Linked DNA regions of Homo sapiens: all the other regions are linked to region 4. Evidence: fine-mapped expression QTL. A gene starts in region 4. Each other region holds a variant in brackets. All regions are shown on one strand. Distances are from middle to middle.

Region 1 (4,062 bases), 20 kb before region 4:
AAAAAGAAAAAACAAAAACAAAACAAAACAAAAACGCTCTAAAAATGACACTGTTAAACGAATGAGAAGACAAGATACAGCCTAGGAAAAAATATTTGCAAAATACTTGATAAAGGAGTGTTATCCAAAATATATAAAGAACTTTTACAACTCAACAATAAGGAAACAAACATGAAGAAATGGGCAAAACATCTGAATAGACACCTCATCAAAGAAGACGTAGCAATGGAAAAATAAGCACAAGAAAAATGCTCCACATCATATGTCATTAGAGAAATGTCGATTAAAACAATGAGATCAAATGAGAATGGCTACAAAAACCAAAACCAAGATCCTGACGACACCAAACGCTGGCAAGGCTGCGGAGCAACAGAACCGCCCTCACCCGTGGCTGCTGGGAATTCAAAATGGCGCAGCCGTGCTGGAAGGCACTTTGGCAACTTCCTACAAAGCTCAACGTATCCTTACCACGTGTTCCAACGATCGCCCTCCTTGGCATTTCTACTCCCAAAGGGGTGAAAGCCACACAGAAACCTGCACATGTATGTTTATAGCAGCCTTCTTCATAAATGCCAAAAACCAAGATGTCCATCAATAGCTGAGTGAATAAACAAGCTGGGGGACATCCAGATAATGGAATATTATTCAGCCGTAAAAAGAACAAGCTATCAAGCCATGAAAAGACAGGGAGAAACCTCAACTACATACTGCGAAGGGAAAGAAGCTGGTCTGAAAAGGCTGCATACGGTATAATCCCAGCTGTGTGACGTTCTGGGTAAGACAAACTGGAAAGACAGTAAGAGGATCAGTGGGTGCCAGGGGTTGTGGGGAGGGAGGAATAAACAGGTGGAGCTCCAAGGATTTTTTCGGGCAATGAAACTCTTCTGCAGGATCCTGGGATGGTAGATATAGGACATTACACATTTGTCCAAACCCACAGAAGGTACAAGACTGATGAACCCTAATATAAACTGCAGACTTTCCTTAATAATGTATCAATATTGGCTCATTAATTGTAACAATGTACCACACTAATGCAAAATGTTAATAACAGGGAGACACCTGTTATTAACAGGTGAGGGCCAGGAGACACCATGGAGCCGCTGTCCTGTGGGCTCAACGCTTCTCTACAACTGTTCTAAAAAATAAAGTCTATTAATAACAATTTAGATGGCCAGGCATGGTGGCTCAGGCCTGTCATCCCAGCACTTTGGGAGGCCGAGGCAGGCAGATCACTTGAGGTCAGGAGTTTGAGACCAGCCTGGACAACATGGTGAAACCCTGTCTCTACCAAAAATATAAAACATTAGCTGAGGGAGGTGGCGGGCTCCTGTAATCCCAGCTACTCAGAAGGCTGAGGCAGGAGAATCACTTGAATCTGGGAGGTGGAGAGCTGAGATCGTGCCACTGCACTCCAGCCTGGGTGACAGAGCGAGACTCCATCTCAAAAAAAAAAAAAAAAAAAAAATTAGAAACCCCTAGCCCCAAGTTCTAGGTCTCTGCCCTGGAGATTCTGATCCAGTTGGTCTGGGGTGAGCCTTGGGGTCTGCATTCTGGAAGCACCCCTGGGGGAGATTCCTGAGGCTATAAGGCTCTGAGCTACACCTGTGTCACCTGTGTTTCCCTCTCCTCCCCTGAGGGCCCACCCTCCATCCATCACCTGCACCACAATCCCTGTCTCAGGCTGTGCTTCTGAGGACTGCCCCCGCTCCATGCACGAAAGAAATTCCAGATCTTTCCATTCTCCCTTTGTCTCATCTCTCCCCAGTGGGCTGGAAGCCACAGAGCCTGTGTTGAGCAGGCCACCCTGGGGCTCCCAGGGAGCTACTCTCTCCCCACCCTGCCCTCCTCCCGGAGCCCCCAAGTTGGGAGGAGTGGCTTTGACCATGCAGATAGCCACTCCTGGGGGCTGCAGGCACAGCAGAGAAGCAGACTTGGGTGGATCTGTGGGTGTCAGGCATTTGGGACATGCC[G/A]TGAGTAAGTGTGTCTGGATACAGCTTCAGTCTCAGGTTTAGCTCCCTGCAGGGCACGAGCCCCTCAGGTGTGCACAGACCGAGGACTGGACATCCATCTCTTGGCTCTTGCCAGCAGCTTCTTCTGAGTGTCGCCGGAAGGGCTGGGTGGGGTCAGGGGACAGTCTTAGGGTCCCTTTCCAACTCAGCATCTCCGGCTTCCTTCAGAAAAGAATCTACCCCAAGACCCTTCTCAGTGTCCTGAAGCCCCTCTGTCTGGAGCGAGGACTCCACTGAGGGCCGGTTCTGGGTGCAGGTGACAGAAACTGGGTGGGCACCTGGCTGGGCTGTCCAGGTGACCTGGTGGACGTGCCTCTGGCGTTTGGCAGAAGTGGCTGCCGTGAAACCTGCTTGGCCTCCGGGTGTTGGCCTGCCCTTCGCGACTCAGTTTCCTTTTCCTTCCCCTTCCTGAGCAATGCTGGCACACACAAAGAAAGCCCAGCTGTGCACACAGCGTCTTCCGCAGACACCGTGGCCCAGCCTCCGGCAGGCAGAGAAAACCACAAACGGCCTCCACTTTCACCGAAATGGAAGCAGCCTTGCCAAGGGGATGTTAAGAAATGAACTTCTGCCATTTTTAGAAACTGAACAGTAAAAATCCCCGGGAATGAAGCTGGTGCTGGAAACGGAAGCTCCGTCCCCTCCTGCGGGGACGTCTGTCTGTTCATCACCAGTAGTGTCTGCACCCACCCAGCTCCACCCCCTCCTCAGGGTGGGGCTGCCGCACACACTGACCGCAGGGATGGGGAAACAGGGCTTCATGGAGGAGGTGACCCTGGGGTCCAGCTGAGTAGCCGGGGAGGGAAAGAGAGAGCACCGACCCCAAGGTACCCATCTCCCTCCTGTTGATCAAGGCTCGGATGCTGGGAGACTCGGGGGGACCTGTGCACCACTCCCTTCCCCTGACTTCAAAGCCGACTCAGCCCCTCCTCCAGGAAGCCCTCCCTGCTGTCCAGTCCACACCCCTCATCCACAAGGCTCGTCCTTGTGGTCATAAGGAGCCCCAGGAGGGGGAGTAAAGAGCCAGATGATGGGGCCGGGCCTAGACTGGCCCTTCCTTGGCCCTGCAGGCACCGTGGGCCTGGGGCAGCCCTGAGGCCTCGCTGGGTCCCCAGCACCATCTGCTGTGACAGGAGGTGAGTGAGTGCAGGCCCCAGGTGCTGGGTCGGCCCACGCCGGGAGCGCCGGGAACACAGGTCTGTCCCTTTGCCCACTTGGCCCCACCCTTGCCATGGCACCCATACCCGCCTGCCCTTGCTCTTCTCCCACTCTGGCCCTCGGCTGTGGCCCTGGTGGCCGCTGCTGTGCAGTTCTGAGGCCGGGGCCATTTGCTGATCCAGGGGCTGCTGCTTTCAGCCCACAGGTCCCCCTGCCACCACGCCAGACACAGGTTTTGTGATGAAACCTGTTTGTGGCTCAGGCACTCCCGCCTCCCCTCCAGGAAATCCACGTCCAGCCACCCTCTCTGTGCTATCCCCTCAGTCACCTCGATGCTGGAGGCGGAGGGCTCAGAGCCACTGCCCAGCGGCCGTACCACAGCGGACTCTCCTTAGACCGGTGCTGAGCCCGGCGGCCGGGCAAGGTGCAGAGGTGGCTCCAGACCCGCCGGCAGTCCAGCTGGCGCTATCTCTGGGGCAGAACCCGTGGCCCCAGGCGGTGACAGCCTGTGTGTTTTCAGTGTTCACTCCTCACTCCAGCTCACCTGTTCCTGGCACTCTGGGCTGGGACTTGCTGGGACCCCCCACTTCCACCCAGCCCTTGCTGCTCCCTGAGGGTGGAGAGGAAACCCTGTCCTCAGGCCCTGTGAGCCGGAGAGAGCGCATCTACGTGGTGACAGGTCTGTGGGGCCGGGGAGCCTGCAGGAGCCCGGCTCAGGGTGGGGGCAGTGCGGAGCCCTCACGGGCTCCTGTGTGGGGCTGGTGTGTCCTGCCCTGGCTTATGCAGGCAACCCGCTTCCCAGGCGGATGAGGCGGTCTCTCGGGGACTCCAGGAGGGCCTTGAGCCTTGGAACCAATGAAAACAGGTGATGCAGAAACCCTTCTCCTCCAGC
Region 2 (4,062 bases), 21 kb after region 4:
CACGGCAGACAGGCCCACTCACCAGGCAAGGGGGCTGGGGTCGTTCACCTGCCGCGCAGGCGCAAAGCAGGCACAGAGGCCAGGGAAGCCCATGTGAACAGGAGTGCAGGCGCTGGCTGCAGGCGTCGACTCAGCCCCTGGGGGTGAGGGTGGGGACGCGGGTCCCCCGCATCTGCTCCACCCCTTTCATGATTATTTCTGCAGGTAGGGGTTCCCTCAGGTCCACCCCCTTCCTCGGCCCCAGACATTCCTGGGTGCCCCGTCCCACACATGGAGTGGGGTGAGGATGATGTGGATCCCCCTGCCAGGAACACAAGGAATCGGGCAGCTTGGCAGGATCCCTACAGCTCTGCCTGAGCCCCCGCAAGTTATTAAGGCATGGCGGTCGCCTTCCGGAGGGTCTGGGGGTCTAAGATGACCAGGGCGTCTTTGGAAAGGGGCGGTCCCCAGGAGGGGCTCAATGCGGGGTGGAGACAGCTGCTCAGGTGAGTGCTGTGCTGGGCACCCGGCTCGCTGGGCCCTGCTGGGGCTGGGGTCCCCTCTGCCACGTCCCCCGTAGGGACCTGCTGCTCATCCAGCCTGGGAGGCCATGGGCCAGCACCTGAGGAGGCTGAGCATCTGTCCGTCTGTCCGTTCGGGCAGCTGGTATCCTCAGTGCCTAGGGTGATGTCTGCGAGCCCTGGCTTCTGCACGAGCACCGGTGTGATGGAGGAAGGACTGATGGAGAGAGGGAGCCACTCTGCCCAAGAGACAGGCCTGCGAGGCACGGGGCACAGCCGGGGACAGGCCTGCGAGGCACGGGGCACAGCCGGGGACAGGCCTGCGAGGAACGGGACACAGCCGGCCAGGGACAGGCCTGCGAGGCACGGGGCACAGCCAGGGACAAGCCTATGAGGCGCGGGGCACAGCCAGGGACAGGCCTACGAGGCGCGGGGCACAGCTGGCCACGTGCAGGCCAGGGAAAAATGGGATGAGGGTTTGGAGATGAGGGCCTGACTTGATTCCTTAGAGACCGTCCATTTATGGGAAAGAATGGGGCGCCTCCGGCCACCTGCTGGCTCCAAGACTAACCACAGGAGGAAATGTCAGAGGAAATTAACTGTGCTCGAGCTTTTGTGATGAGCCTGATTTTCCAGCTTCTAGAAAGCTGTGCTTCCATGCTGAGGCTTGTACTCGTTCGGTTTATTGGGAAGAATTAAAGGGCTTCTCGGAAAATGTTAATGTCTCCTTCCCACCAGCCTGGCCACCCCAGCTTCCCCCAGGCCCTGAAAGTTAGGTCTCCCCTGTGTTTGGTGCTTCTGACATTGCAGAGGGACTCCTTCCTCCTGGCAGCTCTGCCTTCAAGCCCAGAAAGCCATTGCTGGACACAACCCAAGTCAGGGGACCGGGTTTGCTGGAGTGGGTGGCAGGGGGCATGCATCCCCCACCCCAGCCATCTGCTGGCTCTGGAGCCCTGCTCTCACCCAGTTGGTGTCTCCTGGGCCCTGCGTCCATTCCATTTTGCCTTCAAAAGCCTGAGCTGCTGCTCTTACTCACTCAAGAGAGCCTCCAGTGTCCAATGTGAGCCCCAAACCCCGAGAAAATATAGGCAGAATTGTGTTTGCTGTGTGCACACAGACTGAGCTTTTGCTTAAGAACCTGGTGGGGCTACAGGTGAGCGGGGTTGGGGTGAGCAGGGTCAGGGGTGAGTGGGGTCATTGGTGCACGGGCAGGGTTGCACAGGGCTGGGGGGTGCATGGGTAAGTCCTAGCACTGAGTGGTGTAGGGGGCAGCCTCCCTCCCAAAGAGGCCTCGTGGGGGGCCGCGGGCAGGACCTGGGCGAGGTGTTCTCGTAGGGACCCCAGGGATCCTCCTTGCCCTCTGGGATGGGCTATCTCTGCTGCTCAGTGGACGCCCAGCTTCTGCGGCTTGCATATGGGGTGGCGTGTGAGTCAGCCCCTTCTATGTATGTGTGCACGTGTGTGTGTGTGTAGGTCTCTTATGCTGCTGAGAGCCTGGAAGGCAATGAAGTTGGTGGTGCTGGGACCTGGAAAGCAATGAAGCTGGTGGTGCTGGGACCTGGAAAGCAATGAAACTGGTGGTGCTGGGACCTGGAAGGCAATGAAGCTGGTGGGGGTGGGTAAGGCCCGGGGGTGGCTGCAGCGCGGCACTAGTGCCTGGTAGGACATGGCCGGGAGGTGAGTGGGGATCCCCTGGGGTACCTTTTCCTGCACTCCCATGTGCTCAGGGATACCCCTGAGGCTCGGAAGGCAGGTTGGGCCATGGCTGCCCTGGAGGCTGTGCTAGGCTGGCAGCCTAGTGGCCACGCTGACGACATGGGACCCGCGGCCCCAGCAGAGGTACAGGGAAGCCGGTGTCGTCCTTCCGTGTCCAGGAGCGGCCCCCCACAGCCCGTGCACCCCGAGGTGTGGCTTAGGCCCAGCCCTGCCCTTGGGGC[G/A]CAGAGTCTGGCTGGAGAGGCCCACCCAGAGCGGGGGATGGCAGGGGCCTCCCAAGGGACCTCCCCCTCTCTGGCTCAGAGGCTCTGCCCCGTGCGCTGCCTCCTGGCGTGGCCCTTGCCGGGCTCATTGTGTGGGTGCCAAGTGCTCCTCAGATGGTTGGTGGAAGGACGTGTCTCTGCATCCCGCCCGGATGACGCACCTGCCCTGCCCTGGACGCCACTGCGTGGTTTCTTCCGCCTCCTTGGCCTGCTGGCTCCTCCCCGGGCCTCGGCTCAGATGGCTCTTCCTCCACATGCCCTTGGCCTTCAGTGTAGACGCCCCAGGGTGGCCACTGTGTCTCCCGTGGCTGTGTGGCGTTTGGTCAACTTCATGGACCTTTGGAACAACGTGGGGCCAGGATTAGGAAGCTGCTGCCACTTGCCTTCAGAGGCCCCCGCTCCTGTTTGGGGGTGCCCTTTCCATCGCTCCTGTTTGGGGGCGCCCTTTCCATCGCTCCTGTTTGGGGGTGCCCCACCCATCGTGCCTGTTTGGGGGTGCCCTTTCCCATTGCTCCTGTTTGGGGGTGCCCTTCCCATCGTGCCTGTTTGGGGGTGCCCTTTCCCATTGCTCCTGTTTGGGGGTGCCCTTCCCATTGTGCCTGTTTGGGGGTGCCCTTCCCATCGTGCCTGTTTGGGGGTGCCGTTCCCATTGTGCCTGTTTGGGGGTGCCCTTTCCCATTGCTCCTGTTTGGGGGTGCCTTTCCCATTGCTCCTGTTTGGGGGTGCCCTTCCCATTGCTCCTGTTTGGGGGTGCCCTACCCATCGTGCCTGTTCGGGGGCACCCTTTTCATCTGCCTGCAATGGGCGCCCTGGCCAGCCACCCCTTCTCTGTGGTGCTGGGCACTCTGATACTCTCTTCCTGTCTCTGCACCGTCCAAACCTGCCCTTGGTAAAATAGCTGATATACTAATTCAGACTAAAGGGCCAACCATGGCTAAGACTTAGTGTACTCTCCTTTTCTTTTCACCTTATAATAAAATATTTTTAAAAGAAAGAAAACAAAACCAAGATCTGACTCTGGAATGGTGTTCAGCTGGCAGGGAAGGTGTCTGGGGTCAGAGGGCCCTCGGGGGCTCAGAAACAGCAGGAGGGCCTGCTCTTTAGGCAGCTGCCGGCCCCTCCCCTCTTCCCCGCTCCTGGCGCCAGTGTCTTCTCACTCTGTCCCCGGCCCTTGGTGGAGCGGAGTTGCATTCATCCTGAAGCTTTAGGACATGACACTCAGTCACAACTGTGACATGAGAAGAACTGCGAGCTCCACGCCGCTCTGCGGTTGACTGTTGTCCTCAGTAAACAGGGAAGTGCCTGTCACTTCTCAGCTGGGGGGAGGAAGGCTCGTTTCCACCCGGTGCTTGGAGATAATGTCCTTATGAATAGCTATTTAGACACCACCTGCCATCCTGTACCAGGAGCTCCGCACTGGGGCGGGAGCTACACGGAGACACTCAGCTCATTATTCTGAGCCGTCTCCATGGGCGGCTGCACTCCCCAGGTACAGAGATTGCCCTGCCCAGATGGGAAGTGGCCGCGATAAACAGGAATGGACGCAGGGGCTCTCGGAGTCCAGAAGCCCCCCAGTCCCCGGAGGG
Region 3 (4,062 bases), 31 kb before region 4:
CTCAGGCACACAGGTCTCATCTGTGAGGCAGAGGCTCCTGTCAGGCTCCTTTTGTAGATAAAGAAACCCAGGCACAGTTGTGAACCCAGGGGCCTGATCCCACAGCCTGAGCTCCCACTTCCTCCATCAGGGGCCATCCTATGAGCAGATCCTCATCCCCACTGGTGAAGCTTTGTGGCATGTACCTCACCTGAGCAGATGCCTTCTGTGGGCCATTGCCAGGTTTTGAGAGCATCTAGTCCAAGGCTGTGGCTCCTTGGCGACCTCTCAGGGACTGAGCCTGCCCCACAGCCTCTGTCCATGGCTCCTCCACTCTGTTCCCTGCACTTTTCTTCTGGTTTGGAATTTCTGGGAAAGGCTCAAGAGAATGCCAGAGCCCCAGGGAGCCTCAGGGGTTCAGTACCATGGACAATGCCCAGGCATGCTCGAAGGGGCGCACAGACATGGGGTGGGAGGAACATGGTGTGGGGCAGGGGGCCGGTGTAGGGACCCCCAAGCCAGCTGGGGGCAAGGACCCCATCAGGAGAACTCTGGCCACCTGCAGACCCGTCCTCTGAGCGGGGCTGGTGAGTCACCCGTCACCTCTGCAAGAGGTTTGCCCTCCTCTCCTCTTCCAGGCAGCAGGGAGCCCTGAGTGTGGGAGTTGGAATCTTTTCCCTCCTGATTGCTGGAGCTATAGAGGCCATTGTCTGAGTGGGGACTTGGCAGAACAGAAGCCCCTGGAAGCCACATCCTGTCTGTGCCCGGCTGAGCTGCGGGACTGGCAGCAGCCTGGCTGCCGGGAGACCCCTGACTTAGCAGCCTGGCTGCCGGGAGACCCCTGACTTAGCCCAGAGGGCCTTAGTCAGATTAGGGAAAGAGCCTTCCTGACACCCTTGCCTCCTCTACCTGTGCTGGGCAGGTGCCCTCCAGGACAGGAGGAGGGGAGGCCCCTGGCCCTCAGCCCCGGGAACGGCCCTCCCCTCGCTGAGCCTGGCCGGGGCCCAGAACCCCAGTGTGCCCCATTAGTCACTCTGAGGGCAGTGCTGGGGTGGCGAGTTGCTTTTCAGCTGCTCCAGCACTTCTCAAGAGTAAATCACAGGCAGCGGCAGGTGACAGCCAGCGGTTGAGGCTGCGGGCTGCAGGTCTCTGCCATGTTTTCAAATATCTGCCAGCTTCAAGCCCATGAGAATGCTCACACCCACAAGGCATCTGCTGGGAAGCACGACAGGGCTTTAAAAACTCTTGACAAGCCCAGGAGGCTGCGCAGAGCAGTGAGTGAGGGGTGGAATTCTGGCCCCGGTCACGGCCCCCACCTCTCTGGGGATCTGAGCGGGAAGGATCCCTGGTAGGGCCTCGCACTCCTGTTTCTCAGATGAGGAAACCGTGGCCAGGTGGGGGCTCCCCTGGGCTCGAGTCCACAGCTCTGGTCTCCACCCTCAGACTGTCGGCACAACCCTTTTCCCTCCCGCCTGCACGGCTTGTAAGATCTGTCTCCCGCTCACCCTATGACTAAGAATGAGCCCCACAACCCTTTTCCCTCCGGCCTGCACGGCTTGTAAGATCTGCCTGCCGCTCACCCTATGACTAAGAATGAGCCCCACAACCCTTTTCCTTCCGGCCTGTGCGGCTTATAAGATCTGCCTGCCGCTCACCCTATGACTAAGAATGAGCCCCACAACCCTTTTCCTTCCGGCCTGCACGGCTTGTAAGATCTGCCTGCCGCTCACCCTATGGCTGCGAATGAGCCCGTTCGATCCGGTTTGCTGAGGCTTTCGTTCATACTTTTCTAAAACGCAGGGCACTAAC[G/A]TGACAGATCAGAAGTGGAGCTAACACACTTAGCACAGAGCGCTTTGGAGCCCGGTTCCTTGAAAAAAGCCACACCATCCGGAAAAGTTCTCTGCTCCATGCAGGAAAAGCCCAGAGACCTGCAAACGCAAGCCCTGGGTTTCCGGGGAGTTTGTGCAAAGCCCCAGCTGTGACCAAGGAGGAGCTGCTGTGATCAAGGGGGAGGCCCTGCAGCTGGGGACGAGGCGGTGCGGCCAGGGGCCAGCAGTCCCAGCACGACTTAACTTTCCATGTCAGAGCACAGATTTGGAAAAGAGCAAGTGTTCCCAGTTGCCTGCGGGACAGCATATGCGTCCCGCACCCCGCCGGCCTGTTCTCCAGTTCTGGCCGTCGCCGGCCGCTGCACCTCCAGCCCCACGGTTCTCTGTGTGCTTTTCTGCCATGCAGACATATGGGCATCAGGCACATCCTGCCCCTCCCAGCGCCTAGTGGCCACGCCCTGGCAAAGCTGGCCGCCGTGTCCCACAGACATCTGGCTCTACACAGCATCTCAGCGGTGTCAGTGGAATTAGTGTTCTGCCCTGTTGTGGTGAATCTGATTATGGTGAACACACAGAGCCAAGTGTCCTCACCCACCGGAAGAGGCCGTAGGGGTGAGAGAGGAAGGCCGGGGGCGGCCCCTCACACCCCCAAGTACCTGCATGGGAGGGACTGACTCAGTGACACCTGGCTCTCCTTGCTTCCCCAGCTGCCCAGCCCCTGGGCTCAGGGGGCCCCAGGCTCTGGCTTAACCCCAGATCTCCACCCTTTGTGCTTCAGCCAGGCCCCTTCTGTGTGATTCCAGGGGCTCCAGCCTCTACCCTGAGTGGCCGAAAGGAAGGGCCAGTGCTCTGGAACAGCAGTGGGACCCAGGGCCACCCCATCCAGTGCCGAGTCTGGGATCTCAAGAGCATAGGACGTGGGAGACTTGGTGAACCAAGAGGGCCCAGGGGCCAGGGTCAAGCACAGCCAGAGGGGGCCTGCTGCCCGGAAGTGTCCTGGAGAGCCTCTCAGCCTGTCCCGGTTCAGTCTCAAGAGCCCAACGGGTCCCCAACGGCGCCACACGACATGAGGTTCCACACGCGTCTCCCTCACAGCCACGCAGGGCTTTCCTTTACAACAGTGAGGAGGCTTGGCTTTTCTGTTTTATGAATGGCTCAGTGCATGAAAACACGCGTGTGTAAAAGATAGATCACTGGGGAGGCGACAAGTCCCAGCTTTCCCATTTCTAGATCCTAGAGTCAAGAACAAGGCAGCCCAGGATTTTGGCCTCGCTGAGTGACCCTGAGCATATTTCCCTTCTCGTGCTGGCCCTGTCTCCTCCTCATGATGGAAGGGGATGGGCTGGTCCATTTTGGAGATCTCTGGCCTGAGACCTAGACCCTCCGCCATCTCTGCTGCCAAGAGCAGCAAGGCTGGAGCCACCTCGAGGACCAGCGTGAGCCTGGACGTGTTCCCAGCCTCCAGCCCGGGTTCCTGCCATGCTAACCCCGCGGGCAGAAGAGAGGCAGTGCACAGGGCTCCCTGCCAACACAGGCACGGCTGAGGCCTGTGGCCACCTTGCAAGGTAGGAGCCCATGAAAGCCAGAGGGCTGATTGGCTCCAGGAGAAGCCTGTCTCTAGAGAGAGACAAATGTACGGCTCATAGGCTCGCCGGGAGATTTTCATGATACTTCGCTGGTGGTCATCAGCCTGTCCTTCCACCCTGCAGGAACGCAGCGGCAGCTGAGGCCTTTTTAGGAAACGAGGCCTCCCCATGGCTCGGGCTATTACTGCTGGCAGCTGGGAGGCTGACCCCACAGCTGCAGGCTTCTCCCCAAGCCGGGCTGCAGACCTGAGCAGGGAGTAGTTTGCCTGACTCTTCTTGGAATGTTCCAGAACTCAGTGGCTGCACCTGCCTTGTCTGTCCCTGTCCCTGGGTTCATCCAGGCCGGCCATCTAGCACCCTCCGTCACCCTCTGCGTGCACCTGGGTTCATCCAGGCCGGCCATCTAGCACCCTCCATCACCCTCTGCGTGCACTGCGTGCCCAGGCCCGCCTCGTGGAGCCTTCAAAAGCCCTGACGGTGCACCTGATGCATCCAAGGCACCTGGCATAGGCAGAGGAGGGGGAGGGGGGCAGACGTGGGCAGATGGGCACTGCAGGGAAAGGGATGCGGCTGTTGCGGAGGACCAGGGGGCATGCAGCGTGGTCTGGGGGAGATAAGGGGCCATTTTCCAGAGGAGGGAGCTTTACGCAGAGGCTGCAGGGCTGAAG
Region 4 (4,062 bases):
GTGACCCCCTGCCCGGCACTGCTGCCCTCACCCCCACCGGGCATACTGGCATACGCGGGGTGCCCAGGCAACTACAGAAGCTTAGCTGGGAGGCTGGCGATGCTGGTGTGTGGGGAGTTGGGGGGACAGCCAGCCACCCTGGCCCCTCTAGCTGGGCAGAGGTAGGCGACTCTGCCCGGATCCTTCACCCTCTGGCTTCCTTAGCCCACCAGAAATGGAGGAAACCCCACACTTCTAAGGCTGCTCATTTCCAAGATGCCTTTCAAAGTTCCCGACCGGCCCTGACTTCCTCCCTGGACACCAGCCTCCTGCTCGGGGCTTTGGTTTGATCAGCCCTCCCCTCCAGCACTGGAACCCCCCGTGCCACGAACCTCAGCCAAACTGATTCCCAAGGGGGCTTCCCACCCGCATTCCCACGGCGCTTTGCTCAGACCCTTGGAGGGCCCTTAGTCACTCGGCTCCAGTTTTACACACCTCACCACAACACCGCCGCCACACGCAGATCCTCACAACCTTCCCCGCAGAAACATCGTCCCCACCATCCCGCAATAATAGTGCCTGTGAGCCCTTCTATGTGTCAGGGGCCATGCAAACACTTCCCACGCGTCCTCTCTCCAATGCTCTACCTTCTGAGGTCAATGCTATCACTACCCCATCACACAGATGGGAAAGCTGAGGCTAAACTAGGAACTGGCCCAACACGGCATCAGGTTCTGTTCTGACTCCCAAGTTTGGGTCAGGGCAGGCAGCTGGGAGGCACCGGCAGAGCCAGTCTGGGGGCTTCTCTGCAGAGGAAGGAACATCACCTGTTGGTGGCACAGTCTTTTGAGAAGCTGATGAAAGTGTTACTCTTCCTTTGGAGACGCAGGTGCCAGCGCACATGTTTCCATTAGGCTTAAGGAATTCAGAGATGTCCGAGGCCCAGCCACCAACACCAGAGAGGTCACAGGCAGGGGCTCCATCCCCTCAACAGGAGGGAAGAAGATAGGGGCTGAGCCTGGCAACTCTGGAGCTGCCCCCAAGCTGCCCCAACCGCCTTCCCAGCCTCGCAGGAGTAGACTGTCTCTGTGACATCTCTCCCACTCCCTACCCAGAAGGCACACCACTGGCACTGCTTTTGGGGTGAAGGAGAGGGGAGCCCCGGGGCTGGTTACTGAGGCTCACCTGTATGACGACCTTGACGGTGGCAGTGTGGATGGTGGGGGTGCACACCAGGCCGCCGGCGTGCTGGCCGTCGGCGCTGCGGTTCTGCTCGCCCATGGTGAACAGCATAGGCACCGCCAGCAGGGCCGAGGCGAGCCAGATGGCGCTGATGAACTTCTTGGTGCGGCTTCGGGACATGAGGGTCTTGGCCTTGAAGGGGTGGCAGATGGCCAGGTAGCGCTCCACACTCAGGCTGGCCACGTTGAGGGCCGTGGCGTAGGTGCAGGCGTCGCGCAGGAAGTAGTAGCCGCGGCAGCCGGCGTCGCCGAAGGCCCAGGGGTGGTGCACCCAGATGAAGTTGTACAGCTCCACGGGCATGGCCAGCAGCAGGGTGAGCAGGTCGGACAGCGCCAGGCTGCCCAGGTGGTAATGCACCGTGCTCTGCAGGCTCTGCAGCGACTTCTTCCGCGCCAGCGTGAACGCCGTCACCGTGTTGCCCACCGTGCCCACCACGAAGAGCGCCAGGTACACGGCGGTCACCAGCACCTTGGAGTAGATGTCGGTGTTCACGTCCAGCTCGCTGCTGGGTGCCGCCAGGACGCGCTCCGACGCGTTGCCCGAAGCGTTGCCGAAGCCCGGGGCCAGCAGCGCCTCCTCCAGTCCGGCCTGCGCCCGCTGGAAGGGGTCGGCGGCCGGCGTGCCCGGGGTTCCCGGCGCGGAGCTGTTGAGGCGCATGGTGGGCGCTGGAGTCCGCGGCTCTGTCCGGCGCCTCCGGGGCTGGAAGTCCGGGCAGGAGTGGGCGCGTCTCAGGCGGGGACCGATGAACGGGAGCCCAGGGGAGGGCGCGTGGCGAAGACCAGCGGGCGCGCCGTCCAGTCGGGAAGCGCCAGACCCAGACGCGCCGCCCCGGGCTCCGGGCTCCGGGCTCCGCTCTCCTCCGGACTCCCAGCTTCCGGCTCCTAGCTCCAGAACCCGTGGTTCCTCGGGCTGTCTCCCGGCTCGGCGCTTGCCACGGGTTCCAGGTGCCTCCGATCTCCAAACCGCGCGGTTCCCCAGGCCCCCGAGGACAGCGCCCAGCCCGGCTCGGGCTGCGCGGGGCGAGCTTGTGGCGCCGGGAGGAGCGCACGCACTGCTGCCCGGGCGCGCTCCCCTCCCTCGCTCAGAATCTCCTCCCTCGCGCTCTCCGCGCACCCCAGCCCCGCACACCTCCCGCCGCGCCCGCGCCCTCCCGGCTCTGCGCGTCTCCACGGAGCCGGCGGCCGCGCGGCGCGCCCAGCAGTGGGGGGTGGCGGCGGAGGAGGGAGGCAGCCCCCGCCGCCATCCCCGCCCCGCCCGGGTGCAGCCTGGCGGGTCGCCCCCTCGCGCTCCCCGGGGCAGGGCGGGCTGGGGTGAGCGCTCCAGGGAACCAGGATTCCGAGCGGGCGCGGCGGGTATCGTGCACCAGACCCTTCCTGCCACCCTCTTCCCTGTTCTCCGCAATTTCTCGCACCGGCTAGGAAGGGAACTATGCACCTCCCCCAACCCTGGGCTCGCTCAGTTGGGGTGAGGGTGTATCCGGAGGGCAGGGAGGGAGGAAGCTCCCCGCTGGCAGGGCTGGGCGGCTGCGCAGCTGGTTGGGCCGACCCCCACTCCTGGGTGTCCACAGGGTGCCAGAAGCTGGGTGCCCAGGGGGCTCTAGGACCACTGGAGATTACATTTCTGGTGATTCCTTTTAAAATCTGGCCGCAGTCATGGGCGTGCCTGGTCTGTGAATGCGTATTTCTGGGATGTGCCCAGTGGAAATGGTGGGGGCTCAGGGCATAGTTATCACCTGGGGCAGGATGGCGTGAGGCAGTACCGAGGGACACCTGCAGGGGCTGAGGAGCTGAGGGGCTGGGTCCTGCAGAGGCCGGGAGCCACAGATGGTTTCATCAAAGTCTGGGGAGGGGTGAATGAGGGAGGGCAGAAAGCAGGTGCCCAGAGCAGCACCCTCCCCACTCAGGGCCCTGCATCTGGCACCCTGGGCTGGTCTCATGACGCTATGGGATGTGATGCCCTGGGCCCCTTATTACTGCCTGGATTTGTCATCAGAAGCCACCCTGAGAGCCTGCGCCCCAGCAGGATTTGGGAGAGGCAGCCCCAGCACGCATCCTCCCAGGCCCTGCAGGCTTTGCACACTCCCTCCCTCTGAGTGTCCTCACAGGGTGCCCCGGCCCCTGGCTCGGGAGCCAGGTGAGGGCAAGATTCCTGTCCTTTCCGTGTCCCCCCCAGCACCTGGTGGCACTGGCATAGGTGGCCAGGCACAAGCTTGCCCCCCCCTCCATGTCTGGGTTGCCCAGGGGCCCCCAGGGCACTACTGTCCCTTCTCTGGGCCCTCCCCGCCCCCTCCCCTGCTCCCTCCTCCCCAGAACCCCTGGGAGAGGTTGGGTAGAGCTGCTGCCCCATGTGTGCAGGGCTGGGAGGAGCTGCTCGAGTGCAGCCCAGGGAACCAGCCTGGCCTTTGTGCACATGGCTGGCTGCACCTGCTGTGCTGGGAGCAGGAAACCTGGGCAGGCTGGGGCGGGGGTCGCAGGGTGTTGAGGGAAGCGGGAGGCTGAGGAACCCCCTCCCGGGCCCGCCCAGCTAGGAGAATTCAAGGCTTCTGAGCCGGTGGCTGGCAGCGGGACTCTGTGATTATTCGTCCGTTCTCGCCCTGCTTTGGACTTCTCTGTTCAACCGGAGCCTGATACTCTTGTCAGGGGGCTGCAGCTCACAAACATCAGAGCTTAGAAATCTTGGCATCAAAGGAAACGCCAGTGATCCCTTTGCTGGAAGCCAGTAGATAGGATTGAATGTTGGCCCTGCTACTTCACATTTGGGCGAGTGTGCTTAGCGTCTCTGTGCCTCGATTGAGTCGTCTGTAAAATGGGAATAGCGGCTGAATGAAGGGCAGGGCTGTTA
Region 5 (4,062 bases), 32 kb after region 4:
AAAAAAGGAATTTGATGAGTTTTGACACATGTATGGATTTGTGGAACCACGTCCACCGTCAGGACACAGATAGCTTCATGACCCAGAACCACGTCCACCATCAGGACACAGATAGCTTCGTGACCCAGAGCAGCTCTGCCATGCTACTTTTTTGTTGTTTGTTTGTCTGAGACAGAGTCTTGCTCTGTCGCCCAGGCTGGAGTGCAGTGGTGTGATTTCGGCTTGCTGCAGCCTTTGCCTCCCAGCTTCAAGCGATTCTCCTGCCTCAGCCTCTGCAGTAGCTGGGATTACAGGCATGCTAATTTTTGTATTTTCAGTAGAGATGGGGTTTCATCATGTTGGCCAGGCTGGTCTCGAACTCCTGACCTCAAGTGATCTGCCTGCCTCGGCCTCCCAAAGTGCTGGCATTATAGGCGCGAGCCACCTTGCCCAGCCCCATGCTACTTTTAAAAGCCACAGTTTCCTCTCCACCCCAGCCCCTGGCAACGGCTTGTCTCCTCTCCATCCCTGCAGCTTTGCCTTTTGGAAGCTGTTGTGTAAGTGAAACCACACACTACTAACCTCTGGGGTCTGGTTCTTTTGCTCAGCGTGGTGCCTCCCAGGTTCGTCCCTGTTGCATATTAACAGTGCCCCCCTCTCACGGCTGAGTCTATCGTGTGGCTGTACGACTATTTATCCTTTCACTTCCTAGAGGACATTTGGGTGGTTTCCAATTTTGTTGATGATTGTGAAAATTCGCTTGAACCCGGGAGTAAGAGGCTGCAGTGAGCTGAGATTGCACCACTGCACTCTAGCCTGGGTGACAGAGCAACACCCGGTCTCAAAAAAAAAAAAAAAAAGAATAGCGCTGTAAGAAACATTTGTGTACAAGATTTTGTGTGAACATAATTTTGCCTTTCTCTAGGAGTGGAATTTCTGTGTTATAAGAAGGTTCAGGTCTAACTTTATAGTAAACTGTCGAGCTGGGTTCCCGAGCGGCCGTATTGCTCTCCACGTCTACCGGCGACGGGTGAGTGTTCCAGCCACCAGAGTCCTCATCAGCACTTGGCATTGTCAACAGCTTTCTTTTAAATTCTGTTAAGTCCTGACTTCTTTAATTTTATCTAAATTTTGCTTGAAAACTGAAGTTAAACAAAACCCTCTCTTCTCCTTCTTATGCACAGCTGCAATAAAGCCTGCTGGCGTTTCTGCCTGGAGTCGCCGCTCGCCCAGGGCATCTGCACGTTTTCTGCCTCTGTGTCCCTGCAGGCCACAGCGCTGCATAACCTACTGTTCCTGTCTTCTGAGGTTTTCCCTTCCTCCAGCTTCCATCAACCTTTGCCTCACTTTCTTTCAAGCCTTTACTGACAGCAGAGGCCCTCAGGCTGAAAACAGCATCCTTACTTCTTTCCTTCCCAAATCTGCAGGTGTGGCTAGGTGGGAAGGGCTGATTCCCTCCCCTAAGGGGAAGTGGGGACAGAGAGCCCAGCTGGGGACTGGAGCACCCAAGACGGCACCCCCATCACGGCGGACTCGGCCTGGCTGACAGCTGGTGCCAGAGCGGGGGCTCCCATGACCTGGGCTTGCTCACAGCGTGGCGCTGGGTTCCCAAGTTGAGCGTTCCCAGAAGGCACTGCCAGTAGAAGCTGTGTCACCTCTGCCACGAGGCACTCCCAATCGCCTGCCAGGCTCAAAAAGAGGGTGCACAGACCCCACCTCCAGCAGAGGAAATGGGACATATTGTGGCCGTTGTTGGAAAATATCTGCCTCAGTGGGGTTGGAGTGCAGGTCTCTACGCCCCCTTCCTGCCTCCTGCCATCCTCTGCTCAGTGGGGTTGGAGTGTAGGTCTCAAGCCCCCTTTCTGCCTCCTGCCACCCTAAGGAAGTGAGCAGGGAGGGAGATTGTGGTACATCTGAACATGGGGCCCACACATGCTCTCCTGGCAGAGTTGCAGTTATGGAACAGACACCAGAAAGTTATGGAACAGACACAGATCCCCCAACAGATCTCCATGGTCTACAGGAGTGAAAGCACAGGGCAGGCAGTCAGCGATGAATGCATGGATGGATGTATTTAATAATAGCTTTACTGAGATATAAGTCACATCCCCAAATATTCACCCTTTAAAGTGTACAATTCGGTTTTTTAAGCATGTTCACAGAGTTGTGCAACCATCACC[G/T]TTATCTAACTCCAGAACATTTCATCACTGCACCAAAACGCCCTGCACCCATGACAGTCGCTCCCGCCTCACCTTCCCCCAGCCCCTGGCACCACTAGTCCATTTTCTGTCTCTACAGATTTGTCCATTCTGGACATTTCTTACAAAAGAATCACAAAACACGTGGCCTTTTGTGTCTGGCTTCTTTCACTGAGCATGTTTCAAGGTCCATGCGCACCTGCACACCATAGCGCAGGGCTTCATTCTTTCTGATTGACGGCCAAGCAAGACCCACTGTGTGGACAGCCCACGCTGATTTACCTACTCATCAGCCAGTTGACATTCGGGCTGGTGCACTTTTTGACTGTTATGAGCAACATTGCCGTGAACATTTGTATGCATGTCTTTATGTGGACATATGTCTTCATTTCTCTTGGGTAGATACTAGGTGTGGAATTGCTGGGTCATCTGCTAATTCCATGGTTAACTTTTTGATGAACCGCAAAACTGTTTTCCAAAGCGGCTGTGCCATTTTACCGTTTTACATTCCCACCCATAGTGTGTGAGGATTCCAAGTTCTCCACGACGTGTCGTTTTCTGGTTTTGTTTGTTTGTTGCTTTTGTTTTTGATACGGTCAGCGCTGTGGCTTTGGTTTGCACTTCCCTGAGTGGGAAAATCTTGAGCATCTTCTCCTGGGCTCGTTGGCCTTTTCTATGTCTTTTGTGATGAAATAAAAGTCAAATCCTTTGCCCATTTTTAAATTGGATCATCCTTTCATTGTTGGGTTGTAGGAATTCTTCTTATTATTATTTTGAGAAAGAGTCTCACTCTGCCACCCAGGCCAGAGTGCAGTGGCACATTCATGGCTCACGACAGCCTTGACCTCCCAGGCTTAGGCGATCCTCCCACCTCAGCCTCCCAAGTAGCTGGGACTACAGGCGCACGCCACCATGCCCGGCTAATGTTTTGTATTTTTTTTTTACAGAGACAGGGTTTCGCTACGTTGCCCAGTTTGGTCTCAAGCTCCTGGGCTCAAGCGATCTGCTTGCCTCAGCCTCCCAAAGTGCTGGGATTATAGGCGTGCGCTGGCGAGCCGGCCGAATTCAGTGATAATTTTTAAATGCACAGAAGAATAAGAGGAACTGGTCCAACAACCAGAAAATTTGACGTTTCCAGCTGCTCCTGGCGTCTGACTCTTGAAGAACATTTAGTGCACAGCACACAGGAGGCCCCCGCAGCCCTCATCCCAGCAGCCGTGGAAAATCTCTCGAGGGAAAACCAAGTGGGCTTGGAGGACTCCTGCCTGCCTCTCCCTCTCCCAGGATGCATGTCTTTCTCCTCCCCACAGGCAGCCGGGCCCTGTGGCCGGCACCTTCCTGGCTAATCCCAGGGGCTCCTCCCAGGACGTGGGAGGACAGGGGCTGGCTGTGGGAGGCATCCAGGACCCAGGCCAGCATGCAGCCGAGGGCGTATCCAGGGCCCATGTGCCCACCAGGCTGGGTGCGCCCGTGATCCCGGAGAAGCGGGGGGCCTGTGTGGGCATCTGCAGATGCCTTCTGGCCTCTGTGGCAGGGCCAGGAGCCACACGCTCCCTGCACTGAGTCACACAGAGGCTGGGTCATCAGGCCTGGGGGGCTGGGGCCGGGACCAGGCTGCAACCAGACTGCTTCCTCTCTGCCCCTGTGTCCCAACTGTCCCTGTCAGCCATCTGCTCCTGTCTCCTCCCTGGGCCTGAGTCAGAGCCAGGCGGATTGTCAATGGGGAAGGCAAGGGGAGCTTAGATCGAGGCGAGGGCAGCAGAGCTCAAGAGCTGCAGAGACCCCGCAGCTCTTGGGAGCTGCCTGAGGGGTGGCAGAGCCCGCGTGGGTGGCCGGCAGCCCGGGCTGCCCACTGGAGGGGCCCTCCTGGACCTGGGAAGGGAAT
Region 6 (4,062 bases), 68 kb before region 4:
CAGACAAATGCAAAGTGGCAGAGTGGGGGCTGCGAGGACAGGTACAGGAGCCCAGGGGCTGTAATCAGGGCCAGGCTGTGTGGTGCAAGGGCCCCGGAGAAGGAGTCATCAGCCTTGGGTCACCTCCTGCAGGCCAGGGTTCACGATGTGAGACAAGAGGCAGGATCACACCAGCCAACAGAGGACCACCCCATCAGACAGGCTGGGGACCACACCATCGAATAGGCCAGGGAACCACACCATCAGATAGATAGGCTGGGGACCACACCAACCACACCATCAGATAGGCTGAGGACCATGCCATCAGACAGGCTGGGGACCATGCCATCAGACAAGCCGGGGACCATGCCATCAGACAAGCCGGGGACGACGCCATCAGACAGGCTGGGGACCAAACCATCAGATAGATAGGTCGGGGACCACACCTTCAGATAGGCTGGGGACCACACCATCAAATAGACCAGGGACCAAGCCATCAGACAGGCCGGGGACCACGCCATCAGACAGGCTGGGGACCACACCTTCAGACAGGCTGGGGACCACACCATCAAATAGACCAGGGACCAAGCCATCAGACAGGCCGGGGACCACACCATCAGACAGGCTGGGGACCACACCATCAGACAGACCGGGGACCATGCCATCAGACAGGCCGGGGACCACGCCATCAGACAGGCCGGGGACCACGCCATCAGACAGACTGGGGACCACGCCATCAGACAGGCCGGGGACCATGCCATCAGACAGGCTGGGGACCACGCCATCAGGCAGGCTGGGGACCACGCCATCAGACATGCTGGGGACCACGCCATTAGATAGACTGGCCAGGGACCATGCCATCAGATAGGCTGGGGCAAAGCCATCAGACAGGTGGAGGTCCATGCCATGGGGCATGAGGTGGTGTCTGTCACCTGGTCCGGGAGCACAGTGTTGCCCATCCGTGCCACCTCCCTGAGGCCCTGGCAAGCATCATTCTCTAATGCAGACAGATGGCTGGGGCGCCAGCAGGAGCCAGACTGCCGCGGAGCAGGAACTGGGCAACTAAGGGTGATTTGGGCCGTAGAGAAGTGATTGATGTGGACAAATGGAGTCTGCAATGCAGGCCCCACGCCACCCTGGCTCCCTGTGCGAACCCAGGGCTCTGCTGCCCTGGCGGGGCTGACTCCATGGACGAGGTGGCTCATGTAGGGCTGGCTGGAAGTAATCATGTCACCCCCTGCAATCATGCCCCCAGGAGATTAGAATAGGACCCTGATCCCTCGTTTCTGTCCTATCCCCTCCTTTCCGTCCCATCTCCTCCTTTCTGCCTCATCTCCTCCTTCCTGCCTCATCTCCTCCTTCCTGCCTCATCTCCTTCCTGCCTCATCTCCTCCTTCCTGCCTCATCTCCTCCTTCCTGTCCCATTTCCTCCTTCCAGTCCCATCTCCTCCTTCCAGTCCTATCTCCTTCCTGCTCCCATCTCTTCCTTCCTGTCCCATTTCCTCCTTCCCGTTCCACCTCCCTGTTCCCATCTCCTCCTCCTGTCCCGCCCCCTCCTTCCTGTCCCGCCCCTCCTTCCTGTCCCACCCTCTCCTTCCTGTCCTGCCCCTCCTTCCTGTCCCGCCCCCTCCTTCCTGTCCCGCCCCTCCTTCCTGTCCCACCCCCTCCTTTCTGTACCTGTTGACCTCATCTGGGCTGCAGTTGGTGACTGCTCGAAGGGGTGGGAGGAACAGTATAAAGTCCTGTCCCCTTC[C/T]TGCCTTCAAGGGCACCCCTGAAGGACCATATCCACTGTGGACCCCCTTGGGATCAGCCGAGGTCTGTAGAGGTGACATTGCAGCCCAGCACCTCCCTCCTCCGCCCTGCCCTCCTCTGTCCTCCTTCCACAGGTGTGGCCAAGGGCACTGCCCAGTTGGCCTGTGACCCCCAGCTGAGGCTGCTTCCTGGGCAGCTGACTTCAAGTTTGTGACCTGAGCTCTCCAGGCCCCCGAGCGGCTGGTGCCTTGGCCCTGCAGTTCTGCGGCCAAGACTCCTCCTCTGGGATCTCGTCTTACCCTGCTGCGGGTGCCAGGGCTGCATGAAGCAAGGGCGAAAGTCCCCTTCGCCCGGGCGCTGCCCTCTGCCTGCTGTCCCCTGTGCTCCTGTTCCCCGTGGCTGCCCAGGGACAGGTGTGTGGGATGGAGGACGCGGGAGAGGCTGAGTCCTCCCCAGTGGACCCCCAGATGCAGACCCTGAGGCAAGGGAGAGTGAGAAAGTGAAGGAAAGAACACAGCTGGAAATGCAACCAAGAAGGAACCCCAGCCCGGACCACTGTGAGCAAGGAGAGCCGAGCCCCGGGGAGCCCTGAGACAGTGTGGGAGTGGAGGCCTGGGGCGCCTCCAGGCAAGGCAGCGGGATGTCTATGCCCCAAGCCCTGCCAGTCGTGGATGGAGACGCACACTTTAGTGCGGGCTCCAGAGACAGAGGGAGCCCCAGGCCGAGAGCTGTGGGTGCTGGGCAGGTGGGCATTGGCCAGCATTGCCCCCACTCATGGCGGGTCCACCTTAATTCGACGGGTGTGACACTCTCCTCACACATGTGCACATTCAAGAGGCAACTGTCTGTTTCTATAACTGGGTGCATTTCGGTCTGGAGCCGTCGAGCCGGGTGGTGGCCATGAATCCCAGGCAACTTGGGGGGCCCAATCCAGGGTTGCCTTTTGGGGGCCTTGGGGCGGCTAGTGCAGTTCCACATGCTGTTAAGGACCTTGAGATGGGAGATTATTCTGGATGGTCAGGGTGGGCACAGTTTAATCACAGCCCCTCTAAGAGGGACTGGGAGGGTCAGGGTCAGAGGAGGAGAGGGGACGACGGAAGGGAGAGAGAGGCTGGGAGATGCCGTGCAGCCAAGGAGGGCAGGAACCTCTAGAAACCACAAAAGGCGAGGACACAATCTCTCCCCTGAGGCAGAGACCCAGGGCTGCCCCGCACAGTCGCGCAGATCGTGTACTGCCCTGCTCCTGGGGCTCATTCACACAGGTTGCCATGGCTGTGGGGTCCCTGGGGCTGGGCTATCTGCCAACCTGGGGGACGCTGCACCCTGTTTTCTGTCCTGTCTACTCCAGCTTTTCACACTCTCTGTTGCCCTTGTCCTTGGGCATCTCAGTGACTCGAAGGAATTGGGTCTTGAGACACAGCCGAGCCTGTGAGCGCTGACCTGTGTAAAGAAGACACCAGAATGAGATGTCTCCACACACAGAGAGCTGCAGCCGATGCCGGCCGGTGACTTGGGACTTGGATGCTTAACAGGAGGCTCCCCCTCTCTTGGGAGGTGAGGATGGGGTTGGGAGCATGTGTCTCAGGGGCTGGCTTCACTCGCTCCTTAGCCCCAGCAGGTGCATCTCCCCCCTGCGAGGGCCTGGTTGCTGTAGTTCTTCTAGAAGGCCGCACTGAAGGGACCCTCTGATCCTCATGCCAGCTCTTAAGACATGCTCCACTCTTAAGACAGAGACAGGAGCTCCCGGGCTCGTGCACACCCTCCCTCTGCGCATGTCCAGGACTCAGGGTCACAGCGTGGGCTCGTGATCCATGGGGTGGGACTCCAGCCTGCTCTGCCTTGGGTTCTGAGGCCAGAAGCAACACTTCCCTCATGTGGGTCCTCACAGGGACCAAGTGGAAGACTGGCGGGGGCGGGGCCCCAGAACTCCACCCACATTTGCACACTCAGCCTTCCCACGCCCAGCCACAGCTTCCATCCATCATCATTGTCCTGTCATGGTGGTGAAAACCAAATCTCTGTCAAAGGAGTTTTCTCCACCCCTTTTCCTGAGGTTGTAGTTTGGGGAGAAGTTTTGAAAATTGCCTGTCCTTGCTAGTGGCTGGGAGTGCTGGGGCACCTTGTCCTTGGGTCTTCTGTTCACACAGACCCCTGTCGTGGCTTCCACAGTCCCCTCAGCCCCTGCCTGGAAGGAGCACGCAGGGCCCTCCGCCTGCCCCAGTGGAGGGAGCACAGAGCCCAAGCAGCCCCCCGGAACTTTCCCCAGCTCGGCCTCATGGTCTGGTGGTTTCTTCTCCAGGTAGAGAGCAGTGAGGAAGGGGACTCAGCCTC
Region 7 (4,062 bases), 25 kb before region 4:
AGAGTGGGGCTCTGCCTCTGGGGTCCCAGGGTCTCCCCAGCTGCCAAGGGCAGCAGCCCCAGACCCAGACAGGGAAAGGAGCCTGGCTTCCCTTCCCGCCCTGCTCCATGGGGCAAGTGCAGAGAATCCCCAGCCACGATGCCCCTGCCCGAGGCACCCCAGGCTCCAGGCAGATCTCAGGCCTCCTAACCCAGGCCCTGCCCCGAAGGGACAAGTTTCAGAACAAACTGTCCACTGGGCTAATACCCCGGCTTTTGTGATCACCACATACTGATTTCTATCGAGGGATGAAAATTGACAAATTTAAACGGGAATTACTGGGCTCGGAAATTTGTTCTTTGTAATGAAGGGAACAGTTGAATACAGAATCTGAATTTGGGATTCAGACCAGACCCCCTCAGAGAAAGTGCTGAACCCGTGAGGAATTGGAGGGTAAGGGGAACTGTTCTTGGCAACTCCTGTCCCATTTCCTTTTGGGATGGGGGCTGCTCCCGCCCCCTGCACAGCCCCACAGGTCACAGCGGGGAAGACCCTGTCCCTGGTCCCCGGTCGCAGTGTGTGCCCTTTCCTACTTCCCTGCACGCCAGCCTCAGGAGGTGAGCTCACCTCGCCGTGTCGGGGGGACTCCCGTGTTACCCACCCCCCAAGCCAGGGAGCGGCCTCCAGGGGAGCATGGGGGAGGCTGAGGCCACCTTGCGGGGAGGCTGTTCCTGGGGCTGGGACGCCTCTCTCTGAATCATCCCCGCCCACAGAAGGAATTCATCTCACTCCTAATAATGTGTTTGTCACAAAGACATAATCGGCTCATCTGTGAGACTCCAGCGTGCACAGCGGTGCTGGCTCTTTGTTGTATAGTGGCAGTCTCACTGCAAGGCCGTTGGGCTTTGAGGAAAGGGAAGGAGGCACCCACTCTCTCCCCGGGGGGCCCCTGCCTTCCCTCGCAGTCCCACCTCTTCCGCCTGCCTCCATCACAGCAATTCAAATAACTATGAATGGGGCTACCTGGGAGCCCCACATCCCTGGCTGTGGGAACAGGCTGACCTTCCAGCACAGTGTCCTCCTGGTGCCAGGCACTGCCCCTCTGCCAAGGACCCTGCAGGCCTGGTAGGTCCCCAAGGGCACCCGTGGCCTCCCACCCCCTAACCATGGTTTTGGCACTGAGCTGGCGGCCAGGCGGGGCAGAGGAGGGAGCTGAGCGTCTTTCTTTAGTGTGCACGTCACCGCACACGATGGCACCCCACTGGTTGCTGCCCATCATGCAGGGCTGCCTCCACATGGGGCCTCAGCACCGGCTGGTGCCTGGCACCCCGCACGCGGCACCCCACCCCAAGGGGAGGCTGTACAGGCTCTGGACACACCCCAAAGCCACCCGAGGGCTGCTTCTCATCAGCAGGGAGGGGCTCGGGCAGCACAGTCCCGTGGAAATAGGATGCAGGCCACGTGAGGCTTAAATGTACCAGTAGCTATGTTACAAAAGTGGAAGGAAACAGCTATGATAATTTTAATACGATATCTTATTTAACTTAATGTATTCAAAATATCATATCAACTTGCAACGGTATTAGTGAGCTATTGTATACCGCCTTTCCGCATTAACTCTAAAACCCGGTGCGGATTTCAGGC[T/C]GAAGCTCATCTTCACTCAGACCAGCCATGTCTCAATGCCCAGTGGCCACGTGTGGCCCAGGGCTGCCACATTAGACAGGGCTGCCTGCAGCTTTTATGGGAAGCCACCTGGGCCAGGCACACCAGCGCCTGCTCCTCGCTCCCCAGGGGTGGTCTTGGCCCCAGCTCTGCTCAGCAGAGAACCCAGAGCCTCCAGGTCAGCCCCGGACACAGGGCGTGGGCATTGCACAAGGTCAAGAATGAGTTACTCATTTTCAACCACCTAAAAAGATGGCCCCAAAATGAAGCCTGGGTAAGACAAGGGGCCACGTCCTTCCAGGAGCAGAGCTCGGCTTCCTCTGCATCGGCCACAAAGCCCCTACTGCACCGAAGCCCAAGAGCTGAGCCAAGATTTTTTTTTTTTTTTGCGGGGAAGGGGGTCACACTCCAGAGAAGGCTCCAGAAAAGCTCTCATCCCAGACCTCGCTGCCTCCGCCCGCCCCTCACGCCCCATCTCTTGCCCGTCCCCCACCAGGGCTGAAGAGTGAACTCAGTAGTAACCCACGTGGCTGAGCCAGAGAAGGAGGCTGCGCAGGGGACAAGGCGGTCGCTTCCAGGATGAGAAGCGCAGACTCGAGGTCGGGCAAACCTGCCGCCGGCCCCAGCCGTGTGCATCTGAGCAAGTGGCTTCCCCCAGCCTCAGGCTCCTCATCTGTGAAACGAAACCCCCTCCAAGCTGGGCTGGCTCAGCACCCAAAACCATCATTTAAAATGCGACCCTGCCTGGGGGCTGTTCGAATCCTCTATTGAGATAAAGTAGCAATCATACATTCATCAGTCACTACTCCCTGCTGGAGGCCTCTTCCCCAGCACAGAGCCTTCCCTCTCTCAGCTGAGACCCCAGGCAAGGGTAGGGAGAAGAGGGTGCTGTCTCCCTCCCCCTCCTCCCCTCTCTCTCCTCTGTTCCTCCCTTTCTCTCTGTGTCTCTCTCTCCTTCTCTCCCTCTCTTTGTGTTTCTCCCTCTGTTTCTCTCTCTGCCTTTCCCTCTCTCCTCTCTTTCCTTTTCTCTCTCCCTCTCTCTTCTCTATCTCCCTCTTTTTCTCCATGTGTGTATCTCTCCTCCCCATCCCCAGAAGCCAGCCCACATGGCTCACCCTGCATTGCTAGGTGAGACAGGCCTGAGCCCTAAGCCAGGAGTCAGCCACAGCCGAGCTTTCCAGAACTTTCTAGAACCTTCCCTTTCCAAAGTGGAAATCTGGACTAGAAGGCACGATTCCCACTGGGGAGCTGCCAGTGGCTCCCTGCCCAAGGGAAACACAACTGTCCCGAGAGATGCTCATTTGCTCCCGGAAAGGAGCGCAGCAAGCTTCAACCAAGTGCTTCAGGAGGGAACCAAGAGCTTCATTCTTCCCTAATTGGTGCTAATTTTCAGCCTTCCCAGAGCTGTGCCTGGGAGGTGCAGAGGTGCCTCCAGGGTGGCCCTGCGGGGACCGGGATGCACATTTCTCTGTTAGGCTGGTAATCAGCTTGCATTTTCTCTGACAGATCTTCTTCCGAAAGAACGTCTACACACTGCCGATGACATTTACTTCACTCAGAATTTGCAAGTCCAATGCCGACATGAATATGCACGGCACTGCTGCTTGGATACGTGGCCTCAGGGCCACGCCTGCGGGTGATGTGACAAGTCCACAGACTCCCGTGGCGGCTTCTCACCGAGAAACATTCCAGCACCTGGAGGCTGCCAGCTGGGAACCCCCTTTAGGCGACGTCAGCGCCGTTGGTTCTCAGCCTGAGCCGCCCCCTGTGCCCGCTGTGGTCCTCCAGGCCCAGGCAGGGAGAGCCCGAGGAAAAGCAAGCGGAGGGTCAGATGGGGAACCAGCGTGCCTGGAGCCACGCAGGGACACGGACTTAGAATTCTACCTTGCATTTAAGGAACAGATGATAGATACTCTCTACAGTCTCTTCCAGGAAATAGAAGCAGAGGAACACTTTATAACTCACTCTACGAGGCCGGCATTACCCCAATAACAAAACCGAGGATGTTACAAGAAAGGAAAACGCAGACCAGGATGTCTCATGAACACAGATGCAAAAACCCTCAACAAAACAGCAGCAAATCCAGCATCACATACTAAGAATTATACACCACAGGATTTCCCAACCAGCACCACATACTAAGAATTACACAAATAGCAGCGAATCTCATGCAGCGCTACATGGTAAGAATTAGACAGCACAGGATTTATTCCAGGCATGCGAGGCTGCTCCAGGGTTCGGAAACAGATTATCGAAATCCATCATGGCAACAGGAACTATTTTCCAAAACCCAACACCCATCTGTGAGAAAAACCTTTCACAAGCCAGGAATACAAGGGAACTCCCTCAGCTTGGTAGAGAACATCTACTAAAAACCTACAGCCCATGTCATACTCAATGGTGACAAACCTGAAGCTTTTC

Direction of the effects. Positions count from the first base shown, and alleles are read on the strand shown. Sizes are in standard deviations (SD) of each study's normalised expression. Not every link is listed here.
As copies of C replace T in region 6, the expression in stomach of the gene that starts at base 2,250 in region 4 goes up (small effect, 0.34 SD a copy in GTEx).

What was found. PIP is the estimated chance that this variant, and not a neighbour inherited with it, causes the effect.
Region 1: its variant is fine-mapped to the expression of NTSR1 in blood mononuclear cells (TOPMed, PIP above 0.99). The same link has a PIP of 0.9 or more in monocytes and whole blood.
Region 2: its variant is fine-mapped to the expression of NTSR1 in whole blood (INTERVAL, PIP above 0.99).
Region 3: its variant is fine-mapped to the expression of NTSR1 in whole blood (TOPMed, PIP above 0.99).
Region 5: its variant is fine-mapped to the expression of NTSR1 in whole blood (INTERVAL, PIP above 0.99). The same link has a PIP of 0.9 or more in blood mononuclear cells.
Region 6: its variant is fine-mapped to the expression of NTSR1 in stomach (GTEx, PIP 0.97).
Region 7: its variant is fine-mapped to the expression of NTSR1 in whole blood (GTEx, PIP 0.99).

What each region holds. Positions count from the first base shown.
Region 1 is chr20:62,727,033-62,731,094 of GRCh38, reverse strand. The region is part of intron 1 of NTSR1 (neurotensin receptor 1); the gene reads right to left. NTSR1-AS1 (NTSR1 antisense RNA 1) reads left to right here. Exons shown (of 2, transcript NR_199009.1): 2 at 1-1,165. Among named protein-coding and RNA genes, the nearest start is that of NTSR1-AS1, 6.3 kb to the left of the region's middle. The variant G/A (reference allele first, on the strand shown) is at 1,974.
Region 2 is chr20:62,686,029-62,690,090 of GRCh38, reverse strand. It overlaps a transcript of SLCO4A1 not described here. Among named protein-coding and RNA genes, the nearest start is that of NTSR1, 21 kb to the left of the region's middle. The variant G/A (reference allele first, on the strand shown) is at 2,438.
Region 3 is chr20:62,737,927-62,741,988 of GRCh38, reverse strand. All of the region lies in intron 1 of NTSR1 (neurotensin receptor 1), which reads right to left. Among named protein-coding and RNA genes, the nearest start is that of NTSR1-AS1, 4.6 kb to the right of the region's middle. RefSeq lists enhancers at 1,421-2,049, 1,030-2,229. The variant G/A (reference allele first, on the strand shown) is at 1,789.
Region 4 is chr20:62,707,024-62,711,085 of GRCh38, reverse strand. NTSR1 (neurotensin receptor 1) reads right to left here and starts at 2,250. Exons shown (of 4, transcript NM_002531.3): 1 at 1,165-2,250. The coding sequence starts at 1,878. RefSeq lists enhancers at 959-1,503, 1,504-2,050, 2,260-2,772, 2,773-3,286.
Region 5 is chr20:62,675,310-62,679,371 of GRCh38, reverse strand. It overlaps a transcript of SLCO4A1 not described here. Among named protein-coding and RNA genes, the nearest start is that of SLCO4A1-AS1, 11 kb to the right of the region's middle. The variant G/T (reference allele first, on the strand shown) is at 2,160.
Region 6 is chr20:62,774,538-62,778,599 of GRCh38, reverse strand. It overlaps LINC00659 (long intergenic non-protein coding RNA 659), which reads left to right and starts at 1,744. Exons shown (of 3, transcript NR_046225.1): 1 at 1,744-1,794; 2 at 3,214-3,285; 3 at 4,031-4,062. RefSeq lists a silencer at 2,276-2,437. The variant C/T (reference allele first, on the strand shown) is at 1,733.
Region 7 is chr20:62,732,268-62,736,329 of GRCh38, reverse strand. All of the region lies in intron 1 of NTSR1 (neurotensin receptor 1), which reads right to left. It overlaps NTSR1-AS1 (NTSR1 antisense RNA 1), which reads left to right and starts at 971. Exons shown (of 2, transcript NR_199009.1): 1 at 971-1,104; 2 at 3,148-4,062. RefSeq lists an enhancer at 702-1,547. The variant T/C (reference allele first, on the strand shown) is at 1,624.